Regions from separate parts of the Homo sapiens genome. Here region 1 is linked to region 2. The links come from fine-mapping of genetic effects on gene expression. Tissue or cell type: stomach. Region 2 holds a variant in brackets; the other region holds the start of a gene. All regions are shown on one strand. Distances are from middle to middle.

Region 1 (8,106 bases), 910 kb before region 2:
TGCCTCAGCCTCCCAAAGTGCTGGGATTACAGGCACGAATCACTGCAAATGGCCTAGAACTGCTGTTTCTGAAATCCCAAACCTCTATATTCTACCTCTGACCCCAGCCTGCTTTTGAGCTCTCTGGCCCTCCTACATTTCGTACGTCGTCTTTCTCTGCTCACATATAGCCCCTTGCTGTCTTCACTCCTCCCTTACCTAGTCTCCAGCCCATTGTTCAGCCCCTGACCACTCTTTCTTTTCTTCTTTTTTTTTTTTTTGAAACGGCGCCTCACTCTGTCTCCTAGGCTGGAGTGCAGTGGTGTGATCTCAACTCACTGCAGCCTCCGCTTCCCAGGTTCAAGTGATTCTCCCACCTGAGCCTCCTGAGTAGCTGAGATTACAGGTACCCACTGCCATCCTGGCTAATTTTTAGTAGAGATGGGGTTTCAATATGTTGGCCAGGCTGGTCTCGAACTCCTGACCTCAAGTGATCCTCCTGCCTCGGCCTTCCAAAGTGCTAGGATTACAGGCGTGTGCCACCACACCTGGCTAATTTTTGTAATTTTGGGTAGAGACAGGGTTTCACCACTTTGCTAAGGCTGGTTTTGAATCCCCGACCTCAGGTGATCCACCTGCCTCAGCCTCCCAAAGTGGCGGGATTACAGGCATGAGCCACTGCACCCAGCCCCCTGATCACTCTTTCAATTCATACCTCAATCATCTAGAACCTTTGACCTTAAGTCTCACCCACTGGCAAAACCTAAAAGTGAATCAATCAAATTCTGTTCTTACACCTTGAGAGCTTTTAGGAGAATTGCAGCACTGTTTGGATCAATGCCACTACGAATTTGTGGCCTTGGTAAGGCCCTGCCCATGCCCACTGGTCCTACCTGTCAGCCTTCTCCCCTCTCCACAAGTCAGCTTTGTCAAGCCTTTATGGTCTCCTGAAGTGACTCTCCACCATCCATTCTTGGTTTTGCCTTAAACTTAAAAAAACAAAACAAAACAAAGCCTACAAACTTGTCTTTAGATGCTCTAATCCTTGTCTCCTTTCCTGTTGTGTGAATGGAAGAAGCATCTCCCCTCCTGTCGGAGGTTAGTTCCTCTGACGTCTCCCATTCTATCTCACTGCCTATGGACATCCCCCGCTGATTACAATTCCCCTTTCCTTTATATTCTTTCTTTTTTTCTTCTCTCTCTCCTTCCTTTTCTTTCCTTTCCCTTCCTTCCTACCTTTTTCTGTCGCCCAGGCTGGAGTGCAGTAGCACGATCTTGGCTCACTGCAGCCTCTGACCTCTTAGACTCAAGCAATCCTCCCACCTCAGCCTCCTGAGTAGCTGAGACTACAGGCACATGCCACCATGCCTAGCTAATTTTTGCATTTTTAGTAGAGACAGGGTTCTACCATGTTGCCCAGGCTGATCTCAAACTCCTGGACTCAAGTGATTCTCCTGCCTCAGCCTCCCAAAATGCTGGGACTGCAGGCATGAGTCACCGCACCTGGCCTCCTTTATTTTCAACTTTCCATTCTTACTAGCTCTTTCTTTTCTCTTTGTTTTGTTTTTGAGACGGAGTTTCACTCTGTTCTCCAGGCTGGAGTACAGTGGCACGATCTTGGCTCACTGCAAGCTCCGCCTCCTGGGTTCACTCCATTCTCCTGTCTCTGCCTCCCGGGTAGCTGGGACTACAGGCGCCCGCCACCACGCCTGGCTAATTTTTTGTACTTTTAGTAGAGATGGGGTTTCACCATGTTAGCCAGGATGGTCTCGAACTCCTGACCTCGTGGTCTGCCCGCCTCGGCCTCCCAAAGTGCTGGGATTACAGGCGTGAGCCACCGCGCCCGGTCTTACTGGCTCTTTCTACTCAGCATGTAACTATGCTTGTCTCTCCTATAATAAAATACCTTTCTCAGTCTTGTGTCTTCCTCTTATTATCATTACCTTACTTACTTTTAGAAGTAAAGTCCTCGGTTTTTCTATTCTTCTTTTTTTAACCTACAGAAATCTACCTTTTCTCATTATTCCTCTGAAATAAACCTGCCTAGGTTATCACTGTCTACAAGCTTTCCCTTGTAGGAAAGCTCCTCCCTGTAGTATCTCACCATGCTGATCACTTTCTCCTTGAAACTCTCTCCTCTGCGTGTCCATGAATGACTCTCATTTTTCTCTAACCTCTCCTTATCAGTTTATATGTTAGGCTATGTTCTCTCAGGAGCAATCTGACAAGGATTGAATGCACACAGTTTACTTGGGAGGTGATCCTAAGAAACACTGGCAGGGGAATGGGGAGGTAGGGCAAGGAAAGGAAGGAAGACTGTATGGGGAGTGCTAATGAGCAGGTGTGGCTGTGGGCAACTGGGGTTCAGTTCCATTGAGGAAACATTGGGAGACCATGGAATGTACACCTCCAAGTGGTTCCACACGAGGAATGAGTTGGGCTGTTTGATCCATTGTTGGGGAGGAAAAACTTTTCCTGCACTCTCTTATGTTCAGTTCTGAGGGGCTGCAAATTTAACTGACAAGAGAAAAAACATATATGCATATGGCACTGCACAAAAGAAGTGATGATGATTTATTTACCTAACTTAATAGGGGAGAGAGGGGGGCAAAAAGGCTCCTATGGGAAGAACAAAGGGGTTTCTAGGGAACAAACAGGAGATAAGGAAGTTTGTGTTCATAGGGAAGTTGTTTATGCAGGTGCACGTGGTTTTCTATTTCATGTCCATAAACCCCTGGAGAGGGGATGAATGGCAACCTCACTCCCAGAAGATTCTGCTTTTACTGAAATAAAGGAAGCTTCAAGAAGGCTTCTTTTTGCCTCTATTGAATCTTACATGTCTTTAGTTTAAAATAATCCTCATGCCAATTTTAGGGTTGAGAGTGCATCCTCAAACCACCAATTCCCCAACATCCCTGGATGAAGGCTCTTCCTGGAGGTGTTGGCTCCTTGGTAATTCCAGCCTGCCTTTCCTGCTGGCTGCTTCCTCCTTCTGTTGGAAAAAGCTTAGGCAGAGAGTTCAGGAACAAATGCTGAGTGCCAAGGGGACGTAGGCTACTGCCTATTTTTCTCTTCCCCCACTTGCTTATTTAATGTGGGTATTCGCCAAGCTTCTTTCCCCCCGTCCCCCACCTTTTCACACTCTTCATTTTTGCCAGGTGATCTTATCAACTCTCAGTTACCTAATGCTCTGATGTCACGCAAATCTACATCCCTTCCCTTCTCATGTCCCTCAAGGTCTAGACCTGTATACAGAATACACCTGCCTGTTGAGCGTCTTACCTTGGGTTGTCCACTGCAAACTCTCAACATAAATAACACTGGGGTTATAGTCCCTCAAATCCTGTTTATTTTCTGTTATTCCCCACCTCGTCTTGCTTTTCTAGAAATCCATTCTTCTCATTGCTGCCAGGGGTCTTTCTAAAACACCTATCCTACAATATGGCCAGGTACTATTTTAGGTGGTAGGGATACAGCAATGAACAAAACAAGGTTCCTGCTTTCATGAGCCTGAATTCTATAGCTAAATATATAAATACACAATAAAGAAGAAAAATATCAGTGGTAAGTTCCATGCAGACTGGGGAGCTACTTTAGATTTGAGAGGTCAGGAAAGGTTTTGCTGAAGAGAAGACATTAAAGCTCAGAGCTGAATGACACACCTTGAGTGGCACTCAGGAGACATCCACACTTCCCAGATGAAAATCCTTTAGTGACTTCCCAAAGTTCTCGGGATATAAGTCCAAATTTCACAGCATGGCAGAGAAGGTCTTCTGGCATCTGGCCAGTTGTCTTCCTCTCTAGCTTCTTTACATTACATGACATTAATGCATTTAATCCTCACGAGCACCTTGCAAAATAGCAGCTAGGCTGGCTGAGTTCTCTGATGGTCTGATTCATCTTTGTACTGTCACTGCGTTAGTAGTTGGCTCAACAAACGTTCATGAAACAAGCAAGGTGTTGGACAAAAAGCATGGATGCTTAAGGCAGGTCTAGACTGGTGCTGCTCAACAAAAATAAGGTAATCCACATTTGCAATGTAAAATTTCCTCATAGCTACATTAGGAAAGTAGAAGCAACACATGAAGTTGTCATAACATTTTATTTATCCAAATATATCCAAAATATTATGTTTAACATGTGATTCATATAAAGTTAGTGAGATATTTTACATTCTTTTTCTCATTCTCAGTCCTCAAAATCTAGTGTGTGTATTTCACACTTATATCACATCTCAATTCGGACTAGCCACTTTCCAATAAAGCTCAGCAGGCCCCGCGGGGTGGCTCACGCCTGTAATTCCAGTGCTCTGGGAGGCTGAGGCAGGTGGATCGCTTGAGGAGTTCGAGACCAGCCTGGGCAACATGAGGAGACCCCGTTTCTACAAAGCAAAACAAAAACCAAAAAAATTAGTGATGCGAACCTTCGGTCTCAGCTACTCAGGAGGCTGAGGTGGGAGGATCGCTTGAGCCCAGGAGTTCCAGGCTGCAGCGAACTACGATAGCGCCACTGCACTCCAGCCTGGGCGATAACGTGAGGCCTTGTCTCCAAAAATAAAAATACAACAACAACAAAAAATCCCAGAAGTGCTCAGCAGCCACATGTGGCTAGTGGCCACCTCCCGCGAAGCAGCCCGGCCACTCACCTCCTACCACCTTTTACCTATTTCTCCTTCTCCGCAGGCCTCCCTAGCACTACCAGTTGTCTTGTTGGCGAGTCCTTTGTGACTCCCACTATACAAGCCCCTCAAGGCCAGGCTTCGCCCTGAACGGTGCCTGGGCGGAGCAGACGCTCCATCAACGCTGTCCCCGCCTGAGTCCACGTCCAGGGGATCCGCAGGCGCCGTACCCTGCTTCCACGCGCCGGGGCCGCCCCTCGCCCGGCCTCCCGCAGGCCCACCCCTCGCCAGGCCCAGGCCCATCCCCGGGCTGTTCGCTGGAAATCGTGGACGTGACTGGGAGGAGCCTGCCCGCCCCGGCTCGCTGCGCCGCGCGCACAGGGCCCGCGCCAGCGACCATGGCGGAGCCCACAGTGTGCTCCTTCCTCACCAAGGTGCTGTGCGCCCACGGCGGCCGCATGTTCCTGAAGGACCTGCGCGGCCACGTGGAGCTGTCGGAGGCCAGGCTCCGGGACGTGCTGCAGCGCGCCGGGCCCGAGCGTTTCCTGCTGCAGGAGGTGGAGACGCAGGAGGGCCTCGGGGACGCGGAGGCCGAGGCGGCGGCCGGCGCGGTGGGCGGTGGCGGCACCTCCGCCTGGAGGGTGGTGGCCGTGTCCTCTGTGCGCCTCTGCGCCCGCTACCAGCGCGGCGAGTGCCAGGCCTGCGACCAGCTGCACTTCTGCCGCCGGCACATGCTGGGCAAGTGCCCCAACCGGGACTGCTGGTGAGAAGGCGGCGGCGGGCGGGGACTGTGGGCGCTGGCCGCGGGCCTGGCCGTCCTGCTGGAAGCGGGAGCGACGGGAAGGGGGGCTTCGTCCTGCCCCGGGCCGGGGACGCGGGGCTGGACGACCCCCTCCCGCAGGCCTTTCCTGGGCGTCCTCCCCCGCGCTTCCAGCAGCTGGGCGGAAAGGCGCGAAGGTCCTCTCCATGGAGACGTCTCAACCGCCCACGCCAGAAAAGTTGCTGCCCCCGCCCGCCCCCCCGGATCCTGCGCGACGCGGCCGGGTTAAATCCGGACTGGGACTTCGGAGCTCACTTATTCTGGTGATATTTGGCGGGAGGTGGGGGGCGTGGGGCGTCTGAGGATCCCATGAGATCCCTGGACCCTTTAGCCGGAAATCGCTGCTCCCCCATATCCACACACTTGTGCAGAAGCGGGTCTGCGCCCTCTAGGTTTAACAGCGCTGAGCCAGTCTCACCCCAGGAAACAGGGCTGGATGGCTTGGGTGAGGCCCTGTGGTTCCTGACTGCCAGAGCTGGGGTTCGGGGCTGCCTCCTGACCCCAGGCTGTGCTTCACAGCCCCGAATTTTCCTTGGTTGTCTCTAGCCACACACCCCGCCAAAGCGGTGCTGGGGATAGGGGCGCTTTCTTTTTAACGTTGGTGGACTGTGGCAGCTGTTGCCGGGGAGAAGGCCAGGTGCAGTCGCCTACGGAACAGATGTGCATCCTCAGGCGAGGTGGGCGACCCTTGGCTTCAAAGCATCCCTACTGAAAATTCAAATGACCCTGGGAGAGGAGTTCCTTCAACCCAATTTTCTTATTTTCCATCAGTGCTTATTAGGCCATACTATCCCCGGTTTCATGAAAATTACTCAACTTCACATGTATTAAATACATTGAAAGCTGCTCAAGGCAAGGAATTGGACAGACTGGTCCTTCTTCACCTGGGCATCTGACCGAGGGCTTTGTTCTTTTAGGTCTACCTGTACCCTTTCCCATGATATCCACACACCTGTCAACATGCAGGTCCTGAAAAGCCATGGACTTTTTGGTCTCAATGAAAACCAGCTTCGGATCCTGCTTTTGCAGAATGACCCCTGTCTTTTACCAGAGGTGAGTCACCAAGGAGTCACCCTCATGTCACATTTGCTACAAGTACTTTCCCCATTTATTTTTCTTTTGGCTTTACATATTAATTTTAATTGCCTTCGAAGCAACATGATTCAGTTTCAAATGCTTTAAAGGTACCCTTTATAATTGCTATCATGGCGAAATAGTACGTTTGTTTCAGTTTAGCCATACACAAAGAAGTTTTAAAAACAAAATAGTACAAATCCCAAGAGAAAATTGGAACATCAATTAAGACCACCAATTAAAAGCAAGATTTTCTAATCTAGCACAGTGATGCTATCATAGACACCTCCACTTGGCCAGAAGAGGGATGGGAAGAAGGGGAGATGTTGAGAAAACAGAGGATAGTTCATAATTGTGGCCTGATTTTAACTCTAATGCATTTCAGCGTCTAGAAAGGAAGATAGCCACAAGACTAGAGGTAGGAGCTGGAGCCTTTGGTGCAGGTGGCAGAGGCTGCTCTCAAGGCAGCAGAATCTGTACCCAGAAGGCAGTCCTGGAGTTGATCTCAGGAACAAGCAGGTTTCTTCCTGACATGCATAACCTGTTTCATTTCTTCGAGCACTGAAGCCAAGTCTGGTATGTCACGGTTGTGAGCCAGAGGCATTCCAACCAACCATGTTGCCCAAAGTAGATGCAAGCAGTAGCTGAAGCAGGTTATTGGCAGGAAGGGAGAGGAGGGTGGCTGCACCTATGAGGCTGGGTCCAGTCCTTCCTGTCTCAGAGAGAAGGCGTGGTGCCGCTGCTATTTGCCTTTTAATTTTATAGTACTTTTTGATTTATAGAAGTTTAGTGTTTTTATTTTGTCAAATCTATCGAATGTTTTTTTGGTATGCCCTTTTTTAGGATGTATCTTGGGCCCAGCCTCACCTTGTCATATTAGACTACTTCAGTGTTTTGTGAGCAGCTGATGGGTTGGCTGCACTTACAACAGGAGCCTCCCCTGTGCCTCCACTTGTCCCCATCACCTGGGACTGGAAGTAGGTGACATGTGGCACAAAACGTGATCATGTGGGCAGCAGGGACTGTGGAAAAACACAGTGCATGAGGCAAGAATGGTGCCTCACATCTCTTGTATGAAATGCCTGATGATTGCTTTTACCACTCTCTCAATAAAAAAGACAATAGACAGGTAAAGTTTCATGCTGGTGCATTGATGGACAAATTTCTAGAAAAATACAGCTTGTCAAAATGGATTCAAGAAGAAACGGAAAGCCAAAATAGTGTCATAAAAATTTTTAAAATAAAAGCATTAAACAAACCTCAAAGCATTAGTTAGAAGGCTTGCACAAGAAAACATCAGACTTATATAGTTTTTTTTTTTTTGAGACAGGGTCTTACTCTCTCACACAGGCTGGAAGTACCTCGGCTCACTGTAGCCTCTGCCTCCTGAGTTCAAGTGATTCTCCCACCTCAGTCTCCTGAATAGTTGGGACTACAGGCACGTGCCACCATGCCCAGCTAATTTTTGTACTTTTTGGTAGAGATAGCGTTTCACCATGTTGGCCGGGCTGGTCTTATATGCCTGACCTCAAGTGATCCCTCTGCCTCAGCCTCCTAAAGTGCTGGGATTACAGGCGTGAGCCACTGCGCCTGGCCAGGCTTATATAGTTTCATA
Region 2 (8,106 bases):
ACATGGTTGGCACCCCTGGCAACTATCCTGTGGTTATCTAGGAGTACTCAGTGATCAGCCATCTCATTAGCATACAAAAATACATATCGCTTTGCAGATTTCAAGGATTTTAGCAGCTTTGTGCCTGGAACCAGGGACAGAGACCAAGTATATATATATTTTATTATATCACAATATTACACTCACTCTCACCACTTTTTTTTTCAACATAGTACTGAAGTCCTAGCCAAAGGAATTGGGCAACATAAAGAAATAAAAGTCATCCAAATCAGAAAAGAAGTCAAAATGTCTCTGTTTGCTGATTACAAGATTTTATGTATAGAACAACCTAAAGATTCTACCCAAAAGTGTTAGAATTAATAAATGAATTCAGTTAAGTTTTAGGATACAGCATCTACATATAAAAATCACTTGTGTTTCTATACTTTGGCAATAAACTATCTGAACAAGAAATTTTTTAAAAAGTCACATTTATAATAGCATCAACGGGAATAAAATAATTAGAAATAAATTTAACCAAAAAGGTGAAATATCTGTATACTGAAAACTATGAAACATAATGAATTAATGAATAAAATTGAAGAAGACACAAATAAATAGGTATTTCATGTTTATGGATCAGAAGAATCAATATTGGAAACTTGTCTATATTACTGAAAGTGATCTATAGATTTAATGCAATTCCTATGAAAATGCCAATGTCATTTTTCATGGAAATAGAAAAAAAATCATAACATTTATATGGCACCTCAAGAGACCCTGAATAGTTAAAGCAATCTTGATCAAGAAGAACAAAGCTGGAGGCTTTGTGTTCTGATTTCAAATTTCATTACAAAGTGATAGTAACTAAAGCAATATGATACAAGCATAAAAACAAACACACATAAACCAATGGGATGTAACAGGAAACCAATAAATAAACCAATACATATATGATCAAGTAATCTTCAATAAAGATGCCAAGAATATACAATGCAGAGAGAATAGTCTCTTCAGTGAATGATGTTGGGAAAATTGGATATCCACATTCAAAAAGAAACAAAAAAATGAAATTGGATTCTTATCTTACACCATGCACAAAAATCAACTCAAACTTGATTAAAGATTTAAATGCAAGATCTGAAACCATAAAATTCCTAAAAGAAAATATAGGGGAAAAGCTCTATGACAGAGGTCTTGTCAATGACACCAAAAGCACAAGCAACAAAAGCAAAAATAAGCAGGCAGGATTATATCAAAGTAAAAAGTTTCTGCAAAGCAAAGGAAACAATCAGCAAAACGAAAAGTCAGCCCACAGAATGAGAGAGAATATGCACAAACCATAGATCCTATAAGGAGTTTATATCCAAAATATATAAGGAACTCTTACAACTCAGTAGTAGAAAAACAACCTGATTTTAAAATGAGCAAAGAACCTGAACAGATATTTTTCCAAGGAAGACATACAAATACTCAACAGAAAAAGGCAATAAATGGCAATTATCAAAACCATGAAAGATATCAAGTATTGGCAAGAATGTGGAGAAACTGGAACTCTTGTACGCTATTGGTGGGAATGTGAAATGGTGCAGCCACTGTGGGAAACAGTATAAAGGGTGCTCAAAAAATTAAAAATAAAACTACCACATGACGCAGCAATCCCACTTTTGGGTATATCCAAAAGAACCACAATCAGGATCTTGAAAAAGGTGGATATCTGGACTCCCATGTTCATTGCAGCAGCATTTTTCATGATAGCGAAGATACAGAAACAATCTAAATGTCTGTCAGTGGGTGAATGGACAAGGAAATTATACATATATATGTGTAATACACACATACTTCATTAGGTAGGTATGATTGGTCTTTGATGACCAAATCAACCTTTAACCCCTCTCCGCTTCCTAGAGGTGGGGGTGGGGCTGAAAGTTTTAACCCTCCAATCACATAGTTGGCAGCCCTGGCAACTATCCTGTGGTTATTTGGAGTACTCAGTGATCAGCCATCTCATTAGCATACAAAAAGACATATCACTTTGTAGATTCCAAGGATTTTAGCAGCTGTGTGCCAGGAACCAGGGACAGAGACCAAATATATATTTATACTTGATATATATATCAAGTATACATACACACACTTATTATAACAAACTATTATTCAGCCTGAACAAAGAAAGAAATCCTACCTTTTGCAACAACATGGATGAATCTGGAGGAGATTTTGCTAATTAAATGTCAGATATAAGAAGATGAATACTTACATGTGGAATCTAAAATAGCTGAACCCATAGAAACAAAGAATAGAAGGGTAGTAACAGGGTTGAGGTAGGGGAGAAATGAGGAGATGTTGGTCAAAGGATACAACCTTGCAGTTAGAAGATGAATAAGTTCTGGAGACCTAAGGTATGGCATGGTGACTATGGTCAATAATACTATATTGTATACTTGAAATTTGCTAAGATAGAGCTTGAGTATTCTCAACACACACACACACACACACACACACACACACACACAAGAAAAATCAAAGGAAAAGGTAACTGTGAGATAATGGATACGTTAATTAGCTTAATTGTGCAAATCATTTCACAATGTATAGGTATATCAAAATATCACATTATATACCTTGAACATATACAATTTTTATATGTCAGTTATACCTGAAGAAAGCTAAAAATATAGGGGAAAAAGCCACCTATGGATTCTTAGCCACACATGAATAATGTTAGGCAGAGATTTCTGAAACAGAAAATCTCCAGTAAGAACAACTGAAGAAAAAAAAAGAAAATATTTAAAAAATTATTTGAGATATAGCCAAGTTTAGTGATGAAATCAAGGTTAGATTAACCAAAAGATTACATAACTATACCTAGGGGATTGTATGTCCATAGTTTCTAGTCTTAGATTATTATTTATAAACATAGTAATTATGAATTTTGGTCTAAATCTTTAGTAAATAAGTTTTTAGACAAAAGGCAACAAAGAAACAAAACATCCCAACAAAGTCTCAGATTCTTCTTCTTCTTTTGTGTAGGTGAGATCTCACAATGTTGTGCTGGTCTTGAACTCCTGGCCTTAAGTGGTTCTCCTGCCTCGGCCTCCCAAAGTGTTGGGATTACAGGCATGAACATCATGTCTGTCCCTTTTCTTCTGATATATATTATAAAAATAAAACAAAAATACATTACTTGTATAAAAGCATGACTAAGCTCAAATTATTTTTGCATAAAAAAGTCTACAAATAACAGAATCTAGCCCTCATGTCGTTTTCCAATAATCTTCAGGATATACCACTTTGCAATCACTGGGAACTAAACAAAGCTGAAGTTTCTTTGCTAAGAAAGTTAGTAAATGCCACAAATAAGAGAAGTCATAATATCCTGGTTTCTCTGGAAGGAGGACATGAATTGAGAAGCAGGTGAGAACCTCCTGGAGTGCTGGAAATATTTTATCTCTTGATCTGGGTGTCAGTGACATGGGTGTTGGTATGGTTTGGATCTGTGTCCCCCCGCAAATCTCATGTCTAATTGTAATCCCCAATGTTAAAAGGGAGACCTGGTAGGAGGTAATTGGATCATGAAGGGGTGGATCCTTCATGAATGGCTTGGTACCACCCCCGTGGTGCTGTTCTAGTGATAGAGTTCTCATGAAATCTTGCTGTTTAAAAGTATGTAGCACTTCTCTCCTGCCCTCTCTTGTTCCTGCTCTGGCTGTATAAGATGAGCCTGTTTCTCCTTTGTGTTTTGCCGTGATTGTAAGT[C/T]TCCTGAAGCCTCCCTAGAAGCTGAGCAGATAGCCTGCATCATGTTTCCTGTACAGCCTCTGGAACCATGAGCCAATTAAACCTCTTTTCTTTATAAATTACCAGTCTCAGGTATTTCTTTATAACAGTGCAGGAATGAACTAATACAAAAATTGGTACTGAAGAGTGGAGCATTGCTATAAAGATACCTGAAAATGTGGAAGTGACTTTGGAACTGGGTAATGGGCAGAGGTTGGAAGAGTGTGGAGGGCTCAGAAGAAGACAGGAAGATGAGGAAAAATTTGGCACTTCCTAGAGACTTGTTAAATTCTTGTGACCAAAAGGCTGACAGTGATATGAACAATGAAGTCCAGGCTGAGGAGGTCTCATATGGAACTGAAGAATGTATTGGGAACTGGGGTAATGGTCACTTTTGCTATGCTTTAGCAAAAAATCTGGCTGCATTGTGCCCCTGCTCTAGGGATCTGTGGAACTTTGAACTTGAGAGTGATGATTTAGGGTATCTGGTGGAAGAAATTTCTAAGCAGCAAAGTATTCAAGATGTGGTTTGGCTGCTTCTCACCACTTATGCTTATATGCATGAGCAAAGAAATGATCTGAAACTGGAACTTATATTTAAAACGCAAGCACAGCATAAAAGTTTGGAAAACCTGCAGACTGGCCATGTGGCAGAAAAGAAAAACCCATTTTTCAGGGGAAGAATTCAAGCAGGCTGCAGAAGTTTGCATAAGTAAAGAGGAGCCAAGTACTAACAGCCAAGACAATGGGCAAGAGGTCTTGAAGGCATTTCAGAGACTTTCGCAGCCACTTCCATCACAGGCCCAGAGGCATAGCAGGACTGAATGGTTTTGTGGGCCAGGCCCTGGGCCCCACTACCCTGTACAACCTTGGGACCCTGCTCCCTCCATCCCAGTCACTCCAGCTCCAGCCGTGGATCAAAGGGGACCAGGAACAGCTTGGGCCTCTGCTTCAGAGGGTGCAATCTGTAAGCCTTGGTGACTTCCATGTGGTGTTAAGCCTTCAGGTGCACAGAATATAAGAGTTGAGTCTTGGGAGCTTTTGCCTAGACTTCAGAAGATGTATAGAAAAGCCTTGATGTCCAGACAGAAGCCCATTGCAGAGGCATAGCCCTCATGGAGAACGTCTACTAGGGCAGTGCAGAGGAGAAATGTGGGGTTGGAGCCCCCACAGAGTCCCCACTGGGGCATTGCCTAGTGGAGCTGTGAGAAGAAGGCCACCATTCTCCAGACCTCTGAATAGTAGAGCTACTGACAGCTCACACCCTGAGCCTGGAAAAGCTTCAGGCACTCAATGCCAGCCCTTGAGAGCAGCTGAAAGGGATGAACTCTGCAAAGCCACAGGGGTGGAGCTGCACAAGGCTTTGGGGGAACCCTTCCACCAGTGTGTCTTGGATGTGACACATGGAGTCAAAGGAGATTATTTTGGGGCTTTAAGATTTAATGACTGCCCTGCTGGGTTTTGGACTTACATGGGGCCTGTGGTCCCTTTATTTTGGCCAATTTCTCCCTTATGGAACAGGAGTATTTACCCAATGCCTATATTAGGAGTGACTAACTTGTTTTTTATTTTACAGGCTCGTAGGTGGAAGGGACTTGCTTTGTCTCGGATGAGACTGTGGACTTTTGAGTTAATGCTGGAATGAGTTAAGACTTTGAAGGACTGTTGGGAGGGCATGATTGTATTTTGAAATGTGAGAAGGACATGAGATTTGGGAGGGGCCAGGGGCAGAATGATACGGTTTGGATCTGTGTTCCACCCAAATCTCATGTCAAATTGTAATCCCCAGTGTTGGAGGTGGGGCGTGGTGGGAGGTGATTGGGGCATGGGGGTGGATCCTTCATGAATGGTTTAACATCATTCCCTTGGTGCTATTCTCTTGATAAGAGTTCTAATGAAATCTGGTTGTTGAGAAGTGTGTGGCACCTCCCCAACCCCCACTGCACTCCCTTGCTCCTGCCTGGGCCATGTGAGATGAGCCTGCTTCTCCTTCACCTCCCGCCATGATTGCAAGTTTCCTGAGGCCTCCCCAGAAGCTGAGCAGATGGCCAGCATCATTCTTCCTGTACAGCCTGTGGAACTGTGAGCCAGTTAAACCTCTTTTCTTTATAAATTACCCCATCTCAGGTATTTCTTTATAGCAATGCAAGAATGGAATAATACAGGTGTGTATATATGTAAAAAATATCACTGAGCTGTACATTTCAGATTAGTGTACTTTATGTACTTTACTGTGAGTGTGTGTATTTATATATACTCATATATATGTATAACAACATAAATTACAAATAGTTTAATATGAAGGCAAAATTCTTTATCAAGGGATGTGAATTCAGTAGTGCTCAGTGTGCACAGTCATCTATTTTCTGTGGGCATCAGGGTGATTCATACAGTTTTCAATATACTTTGTTACCACAAATTTGTAGAGTAGGTAAGGGCCTGTCATGACATTAAAGGTATTATTGTATTCCTGCCACAGCTCATTAAAGTCTCACACTTCGTATTTTCTCTAAGATACATTAAGAAAAATTATCTAAAATTTGAAAGTGGATGAAAAAAAAATGTGTCGACTTTCAGTGTTGTGGGGATTGTCTAGCAGGCTTCCTCAAGGACTGATTCCCCTCAGGGGAAACTTTGTAACTTTTTTTGATTTGCTGTTAATTATTTGTGGTATAGGGTTCCTAAGACCACCCTCGGGTTCAATAATTTGCTGGAAGGAACCACAGAACTCAGAAAAGCTGTTCTACTCATAGTTATGGTTTATTATAGAAAAAGAATTTAGATTTATTATCCAAGGTAAAAGGACAATATGGCAGAGTCCAAGAGAGAGACCAGGCACAAATTTCTACTTGTTCTCTCTCAGTGGAGTTGTATAGATAGTGCTTAACTTTTCCAGCAGTGATGTGTGACAACACGTAAGTAGTATTGTCAACCAGGGAAACTTATCTAAACGTTGAGATCCAGCGTTTTTTGTTTTTTTTTGTTTTTGAGACGGAGTCTCGCTCTGTCACCCAGGCTGGAAGCAGTGGCACGATCTCGGCTCACTGCAAGCTCTGCCTCCCGGGTTCATACCATTCTCCTGCCTCAGCCTCCCGAGTAGCTGGGACCACCAGCACCCGCCACCATGCCCGGCTAAGTTTTTGTATTTTTAGTAGAGACAGCGTTTCACCATGTTAGCCCGGATGGTCTCGATCTCCTGACCTTGTGATTCGCCCGCCTCGGCCTCCCAAAGTGCTGGGATTACAGGTGTGAGCCACCACGCCCGGCCCTAGATCCAGGGTTTTTATTGGGGGTCAGTCATATAGGCTTGGAGTGCCCACATAGCTGACCTTAGTTACTCAGTCTCCAGCCCTTTGGAGTCAAACTGACATCATGTAGCCACCTGCCTCCCCACCCCCCTTCATAAATCACATTGTTAGCATAAACTGTCTAGTGTGGCCCAAAGCCCCAGATAAGCAAAGACATTCTTCTCAGGAATGACATTCCAAGGGCTTAGAGGTTATCTCCCAATAAGTGGTTAATGGCCAGACCTTTCTTTGGAAGGTGCAGGGTTTGGATTTCCCAGGTCAGCTGAGTGAACTGTTTAATAGGGTAATTTACAATTTTGTAAGAGTAGTTATTAACTAATAGAAACCTGGTAGTGATGAAAATGATTCTTGTCCAATAACAATGCAAATGGATCTTTTATTGTAGAGATATAAATTATTAAATCTGGTAGAAAAGATAAACTCAAAAGTTATATAGTTGTATTGCCTTTCAGAAGGCTAAACTGGTTTGGAGCTAAATGAGCAATTTGATCCAAGCATCCTTTCTTTCAGCTGCTGAAACATTTTACTTTCTCCAATTCTCTTGGTATTTCTCTTACCGTTTTTCTGTTTCCATCATTAATGAGATAATTAAATCACTGGTATGTACTCATTTTGTATTTACATAAAAATCATATTTTTGATTTTTTTTTTTTTTGAGATGGAGCTTCGCGCTTGTTGCCCAGGTTAGAGTGCAATGGCGCAATCTCAGCTCACCACAACCTCTGCCTCCAAGGTTCAAGTAATTCTTCTGCCTCAGCCTTCCCGAGTAGCTGGGATTACAGGCATGCGCCTCCACGCCTGGATAATTTTGTATTTTTAGTAGAAACGGGGTTTCTCCATGTTGGTCAGGCTGGTCTCGAACTCCCAACCTCAGGTGATCTGCCTGCCTTGGCCTCCCAAAGTGCTGGGATTACAGGTGTGAGCCACCATGCCCGGCCTGATTTGTAAAAAATTATACTTTGACAGTTTCTTCTCATTTACACCCTCTGATAGGCAGCAACCTTCTTAATTTTCAGTGCTGATGGAGATTTCTACTATATCA

Which allele goes with the higher level. Alleles are on the strand shown, and positions count from the first base shown. SD is a standard deviation of normalised expression in the study named.
For the expression in stomach of the gene that starts at base 4,971 in region 1, C is the low allele of the variant in region 2 and T is the other (moderate effect, 0.41 SD a copy in GTEx).

Evidence for each region. PIP is the estimated chance that this variant, and not a neighbour inherited with it, causes the effect.
Region 1: ZC3HAV1L starts here. The variant in region 2 is fine-mapped to the expression of ZC3HAV1L in stomach (GTEx, PIP 0.95).

Annotation. Positions count from the first base shown.
Region 1 is chr7:139,032,907-139,041,012 of GRCh38, reverse strand. It overlaps ZC3HAV1L (ZC3HAV1 like), which reads left to right and starts at 4,971. Exons shown (of 5, transcript NM_080660.4): 1 at 4,971-5,360; 2 at 6,335-6,470. The coding sequence starts at 4,996. It overlaps LOC107986852 (a long non-coding RNA gene), which reads right to left and starts at 4,830. Exons shown (of 2, transcript XR_007060557.1): 1 at 4,642-4,830; 2 at 4,063-4,360. RefSeq lists silencers at 4,679-4,888, 5,139-5,658 and an enhancer at 4,645-5,564.
Region 2 is chr7:138,126,226-138,134,331 of GRCh38, reverse strand. No RefSeq gene overlaps it. Among named protein-coding and RNA genes, the nearest start is that of MIR4468, 6.5 kb to the right of the region's middle. RefSeq lists an enhancer at 1,684-2,260. The variant C/T (reference allele first, on the strand shown) is at 3,739.